Linked DNA regions of Homo sapiens. The protein of the gene in region 1 interacts with the protein of each later gene in a biochemical or structural test. Each region holds a gene or a part of one and is shown on either strand. Other genes may lie near its edges.

Region 1 (3,754 bases):
TTGTGGGGTCTATATGACCCTTCATATCCAAAACCCATACAATAAATACCACACTATACAAAGCTGTAACAGAATTCAGTATTCACTTCCTGGAGTAAGATAGTTCTCATTTGGAATTCTGGCTTTGGCAATCAACAGCTGTTACGACTCCTGGACAAAGTTCTTAATCTCTCTAACCCTGTTTCCCACTTGAAAAATGGGATTATGTATACTTACTTCATAGGTAATACCTCACAGTGTGTTACTGAGGTTAAATGAGATAATACATATAAACCAAAGTATTTGACACATATATATTAGATCCAACGATAAAATAAATATTAGTTAAAATTATGAAAGTTAGGATGCTCCAACTTACCCAAGAAACATCAGTAAAATTTCATTCATTACAACTTGTTAATAAAGCACTTTTATAACAAAAATGACTTCACGTTCACTTTCTTGATTCTTACAAAAACCTGTGCTTAGAGTGTAGAAATATTTGTATCGTATTATATATGTGGGAAAATTTGAGCTCAGAAAGATTAAGTAACCTTGCTCAGGTTACAATCCCATTCAGTCGCAATTCTGGGATCAGATGCCTGGTCTTCCAACTTTGATTTGGTGAAGCTTCATCTTTTGGGCAAGTAAATAGGTAAAGAAGTATAGCACTTTCTTTGCCGATCTCCCTTATAGAAACACACTGCCCTGTAAACTTGGTCACAAAAACATTAATGAGAAGTGATGCATGAGCATAACTAAGTGATTTCATTTCCCTACCAATTTTATGATTTTAGATAATAAACAGTTTAACAGGGCCGGGCACGGTGGCTCACGCCTGTAATCCCAGCACTTTGGGAGGCCGAGGCGGGTGGATCACAAGGTCAGGAGATCGACACCGTCTTGGCTAACATGGTGAAACCCTGTCTCTACTAAAAATACAAAAAATTAGCCGGGCGTAGTGGCGGGCGCCCGTAGTACCAGCTACTCGGGAGGCTGAGGCAGGAGAATGGCCTGAACCCGGGAGGCGGAGCTTGCAGTGAGCCAAGATTGAGCGTGTTTTGCAAAGCGAGACACCGTCTCAAAAAAAAAAAAAAAAGCAGTTTAACATTTAACAGAAGTGGACAGCTGTTTTCAAATGGTGTAGGCAACGACAAACATTTATTTCACATACCTTATTCTCCTTAGTAGTCAGCTTCAATTGCTCCAGTTCCTCTCTATGTTTCTGTTCCATTTCTTTTTCCAACTTGGCCACATCTTCGGTGAGTTGCTTCCTCCTCTTCTTGTCATTCTTGGGAACAGCATTCTTCATGCCCTGAATTTTGGCTGAAAAGCCATTAAAATCATTAAGTCAGACACGCAGGAGTAAAAGGAGATGAGAAACAGGAACCAATAAGGGGATGGTAACGGGCGAAGGGTACAGAAAAAGTAATTATGGAAGAAAGAGTCATCACGTAACAGGCAGCTACAGAGAGAGAAGATCCCAGATAAAGCTGAGACCAAAAAAAAAAAAAACTTCATTAACAAAATCTTGAATATGTTTCGGTTGTTTGGCGAGATAAGAGAAGGAAAAAAACCTGACTGTAGCCAGTTTTAAATCTTTCCGGTATCCTTTCTGAACCTCCTAAACTGAGGCGGGTCCATTCAAAATACACCCATTAGGGACAAGTATCGGTAACTGGGGCAGGTATAGAAAAGGGAGGCATCGTGGGTTTGGGAGCGGACCAAGACGGCGGCTTCTAGGTATTTTCAGACACCTGCACCCCGGCGGCGGCGCGGGGTAGGGGGCACGCCGCAGGCCTCAGAAGGGGAAGCCTCTGAAGGTTGGGGAATTAAAGGGCCGCCGGGGTAGGTGAAGAGAGAAGAGGCCACTTGCTACTAGGGGAAGTCTAGGGTGATCCAGATAAGTCACGCCTTGAGATTCCCCAGAATCGACCCGCCACGCGCCCTTCCCCCAGTCGCGGCGGCTTCCAGATTCCCACTTCCTTCCGCCTCACCTTGCAACTCCTTCTTCTCTTTGCGATGCCTTCTCAGCAGCTGCTCTTCCTCATCAAGCTCTTCGGTCAATACCGCCTCCATGACGACCAGGTACCCCAGCACACGCGCTAGAAGAAACCTGCACCGGCTAGTAGGCACCTTCCACCCCTCAACCCTCACCCGGGGCTCCATTGGCTACGGCTGGGACCCAGCCCCGCCTTCAAGGCGGCACCGGATCTAAGCAAAGCCACTGCAAAGACGAGAAACTTAAATGGGGTGCTGCGCGTGCGCGCTACCGTGACCCTGCCGTGATGGGCGGGGCGGCAGGGGAGGAACCAGACTGCGAGCGGAGAAGCGGAGTTTGCAGCCTCGGAATTGGCTAGAGCGCCAGAGCCGAGTCAGCCATAAAGCTACGCGCTAGGCTCTTGGCCCTGACGTGAGGCGCGCAGAGATGGCGTAACGGGAATAGTTTTCAACGTCTATTTCATTCCCTGCTTCAGAGGACCTCTTTAATCTTTGATTTTGGTCCCTGTTTCTAAGAAAAGCAACTGAAAAGGTAAGAAAGAAAAATAACGCATTTTAATAAAGCCGTCGATAATTATCAATGGGAATCTTTGGGCTGTTTGGGGCTGTGTGGAATTAAATTATGTTTATTGTCTCCAAGGTCGTAATACCGCCCCTGAGAAAAAAGGAGCAGCGCTAAATAATCGAGAAAATGCCTCCTCTTGAAACGGATATAGAGATGGAAACAAGATATAAGAAGGATTGAGAATCATATAATACAGGAGCTTAAACACCTATGCGCGATGATAAAGAGGGTACTATTAGAGCGCTTGGAAAATACCAGGAAGTTGAGAGAGTTAACAGAAGGGCGCACGCTGGATTGGCCACAAAATCGAATTACTGAAGTAAGTGCAAAACGACAAATTGTCACAGAATACAGAGAAAAGGGGAAAAGAAATTAAGAGGAGAAAAAGAGAGATCTAGAGGGCCGGTCCAGGAGATACAATCTATGCATAATAGGAATACCTGAAACTGAGGACAGAGCAAGTGGAGCTGAAACAATAAAGGATCTACTTGAAAAAATTTTCCAGAATTGAAGAACGAACTAGATCTACAAATGGAAAAGGCTCATAGGATACCTTTAAAGTTTAATGAAAAGAAAGCAGCATCTAGACATATCCGGGTGACGTTTTTGAATTTCAAAGACGAAACATTTTACAAGCATCCAGTCAGAGAAAGCAGGTTACTTACAAAGGGGCAAAAGTCAGGCTGACCTCAGATTTTTCTCCTGCAATTCTAAATGCCAGAAGACAGTGGAACAATATCTAGAGTGTTAAGGGAAAATAATTTTGAGCCAAGAATTATATACTCTGCCAAGTTATCATTTCTTTACAAAGGAAACTGGAAGACATTCTTAGATATACAGGGGTTAGGAAAGTATATCAACCAAGAACTTTCCCTGAAAATTTTGCTGAAGGATTTACTGCAGCTAACAGAGAACCTGAATTAAAATAAGAATAGGGAGGCAATTGTATGAAAGAACTGATGGTATGCATTAAAACTAGTTAAGGAGCATTAAGTTTAAATTGTTATGTATAGGGCATTAAAACTAAATACAAAAATAGAAACATAAGCTGGGTGTAAAATTTCAGTTTACGTTTAAACTGGAAGGGCATACCACATGTTCAATATATTGGACAAATACTGTTTTATTTTTAGCATGTAGTATTGTAGATACAAATACGCATGTTCTTAAGCTAAACCTAAGTAAAAGGGCTTTGTCACTGTAGATTTG
Region 2 (3,754 bases), on another chromosome or scaffold:
GCTCTCCTGCAGACACATCAATTTTATCAGTCACCGTGGTATGCACTGTGTTATCCAATTCAGGGAACCATTTTGCCCACTCATTGACCAGGAGCCTGATGTCAGTATTCTACTTTCACAAATGGGATCTTCAATTACCCTCTATCTGTGCATTTACCATTAGATTTGGGCTATAAAAGTTATTTTTAAGGATGCTATATAATTTTGGTTTCCTTACATTTTGATCTGCATAGTTAATTCACCCCCTTGGCTTTCCTGATATGTGCTATCATTAGGCCAGACTTTCTTCCACATTGAAAAGATTTGCATTTAGTGTCTATGTGCTTAGCCTTAAAAGGGGGAGGAGTGGTATTTATATTCTCTTCTATTTAATCATTCAGTGTCAATCACTCTTACTAAGAGTACAGATCACTCTCCATTATGAAACCCCTTCCTTCCCAAGGGACTGACACCAAAATAGAAATGTTCAGCTACCTTGCAGCTCACAAATTATACCACAACTATATACTCCATACAAGCTATACATGATTTTAGTCCCCTTTGTTCACCCTCCACACTGTTCCACATCAGTTTGCCTTTGTAGTTGGAATGAATTTTACATTGTGATGTGAGCATAAAAATATCATGTGTGTCCATTTTTAGCTATATGCTTAAGAAATATAAGGACATAGTCTCACACAAAAGACCATACAAAGAAAACTATACTCATACTTTATTATATATTCCCATAGTCCAACATAAAAAATAAAATTATTCATGCTAAGTACTTTATTAAATGCTGAACCAATGGCACAAAGGATATTTTCTCATGCATTACAAATAAGATAAAATAGGCCAAGTGCAGTGGCTCATGCCTGTAATCCCAGCACTTCTGGGAGGCTGAGGCGGACAGATCACTTGAGGTCAGGAGTTTGAGACCAGCCTGGCCAACATGGCAAAACCCTGTCTCTACTAAAAATACAAAAAATTAGCCAGGTGTGGCGGGGCACACCTGTAGTTCCAGCTACTCAGGAGGCTGGGGCAGGAGAATTGCTTGATCCAGGGAGGCAGAGGCTGCAGTGAGCCAAGATTGATTCACTGCATTCCAGCCTGGGCAACAGGGCTAGACTCTGTTTTAACAAACAAAGATAAAATAAACAAAAATGTTCAGTTTAATCTTAGACGGTTATCAAGTTCTTCATAAAATCATTTTATAAATACTGTAATTCTAATGAGCTAGCATATTCTACAAGTATTATTTCTTATTTAAGGAGCGTTTAAAGATAGAAGATAATTAACAATCAAATCAAAGTCAACATTTTTGAGACACTATCAAAATAAGATTTATAATTTCAGATTTTAAGGCCTGACGCGGTGGCTCACGCCTGTAATCCCAGCACTTTGGGAGGCCGAGGTGGGCAGATCACGAGGTCAGGAGATCGAGACCATCTTGGCTAACATGGTGAAACCCTGTCTCTGCTAAAAATAACAAAAAATTAGCCGGGCATGGTGGCGGGGGCCTGTAGTCCCAGCTACTTGGGAGGCTGAGGCAGGAGAATGGCGTGAACCCAGGAGGCGGAGTTTGCAGTGAGCTGAGATTGCACCACTGCACTCCAGCCTGGGCGACAGAGCGAGACTCTGTCTCAAAAAAAAGAAAAGATTTTAAATGAAAGAATGGCAACAATGGATAGAATAGAGGCACTTATGATGGTTAAATAAATAAAAACAAATTGTTTAGACCTTTAGAACTATTTAATTATATTCTGAAGTAATTACATGAGTTTTTAAAAATCAAGTCCAAACACCTACACTAGTTAATAAGTTAATCAAAACATACCCAAATTTCTGAGGATTTCATCAAAAAATGAAAACTAATTCAGAAATCAGAATTTAGATCTGCTATGACCATTAAAAATGTTTGCATTTTTTGATCCAAACAACTGAATAAGCAGATTATATTTTCAAATGATATCAGCAATAATGGAGCTGAGCACAGCGGACAACCACTAGGTTAAAATATAGACATTAATTTTTAAATAATATTCCAATGGTGTAAATGAAAATATTCATCAGTTATATATTCCCTCTCGATCCTGAGAGTGATGAAAAAAATTGGGAAGAGGGGCGATACCACAGAGGAAGATCCAGATTTGCTTGTCTAAAAGTATAATGGAAAAAAATGTATCTTAGGATTCTTCACAGTACTTGAACATTTTAAGTTAATAAGAATTTATATGTAAACTCAAATCCACATTCTGAGGGTCTGATGGGGGCATTAAGGATAATTTTGACAGTGATCTGTAAGCTTCTGAAGGGGAAGGAATTGTTGAAAGATAGTACGTAAAGCAGTATCAGGGACAGAGAAAAGAGTAGAGAAAGAAGTGCAAGCTTTGGGCAGGAAGAAGGTACGAATACAGAAAAGGAATTTCATAAAAATTCCTGGGAAAAACGGACTAAAAAAAGGATTAATAAAGTTTCCAAATGGGAGGCAGAGGGGCTAAAGAAAAGTCACAGATTGAAAAAAATTACAGGAACTAAACTGAAGGAAAAATAACTGATTCTTTGAAGAGATCATTTTAAACCTTGGTACAGTCCAACTAAAATCCAGAAATGATACTAATAACATTCCTCAGCTCTATTATTTTTTATTCTAGTATGTTTTAATACTTGTTATTTAATTAAAATTGTGTGCCAATCAACTGAACACATGGAAGTGCTGGATCACAGCCAGCTGGTGGTGGGGAGGTGGGTGGGCAGAAAGGTTATTAGAGAACCACAGAGAGCTGACAAGCAAAGGATCCAGAGCATATTGATGGAAGCAATCTGCCTACCCTGTACACCTCCTGAAGGTAAGAGGGGCAGATCCTGGAACCAACCTTCCTAAAGAAGGCCCCATTTTGTTCTGACTGATTCTACACAATCTAAATAAACATTTGGGTATTGTTTACTCACTCCACAGGACTAGCCCCAAAATACCAAGAGAGGAGTTAGGAAACTTTGATGAGTCACAGAACTAGTAAGTCTCTTTAATAGTGTACATGTCTTCTGACCTCTATCAACCTATACTTTAATGAATTAGTTTCTTTTATTTCATTCTTCTCATAACCAAATTCATAAGATTGTAAGCCAGTTAAACAATAACAATTTTAGTAAAGTTAATTTTTATTTAAGTATGTTTTCCATACTTAAATTTTTATATATTCTAAGTACAGTGGTAAAAACACTGAGTTTTCAAAAATAGTTAGTTGGTGATACTGATGATTTATGTTCTTTTAAAAAGTTTCCTAGATAATAAATACACATTTAACACCAGAAAAGTTTTCATTTGGATCTTCTGGAATATAGAAGCCAGCATCATGCCCCTCTGTTACCTTAATCATGCTAAAAACAAAATATTCTATATACAGAAGGACTAAACATACTTTTACTTTTAAGAGAATTAAAATGGTAATAACAGAAATAATAAACAGGTTCAATTCACTGAGAGCTTACTAAATTCTAGACACTGTGCTAAAGGTTTTTAATGTGTTATATAATTTAATCCACCCCCAAAGCCTATGAATTGGGAACTACAATATCTAAATTGTATTGATGAAGAAATTTAGAGATTATCTAGAAAGGAATTTTAATTGAAAGCAATTAAATTTCACTTCCATTTTGATTACATAAAAATGTTATACCCAACAATATTGATGTAATTTTATTATATGTAAGTCTAAAATATCTAGGATCTTGAATTTAAAACACTAATACACACACACACACACACACAGAC

Evidence for each region.
Region 2: the proteins of OTUD6B (region 1) and LIN28B form a complex in vitro, tested with the Homo sapiens proteins (one study listed by BioGRID).

The regions. Positions count from the first base shown.
Region 1 is NC_000008.11:91,068,689-91,072,442, reverse strand, and holds the start of OTUD6B (deubiquitinase OTUD6B), read right to left. Parts: upstream 2,100-3,754; 5' UTR 2,059-2,099; coding exon 1,977-2,058; intron 1,306-1,976; coding exon 1,154-1,305; intron 1-1,153.
Region 2 is NC_000006.12:105,072,086-105,075,839, reverse strand, and holds part of LIN28B (protein lin-28 homolog B), read right to left. Parts: intron 1-3,754. UniProt on the Homo sapiens protein: Suppressor of microRNA (miRNA) biogenesis, including that of let-7 and possibly of miR107, miR-143 and miR-200c.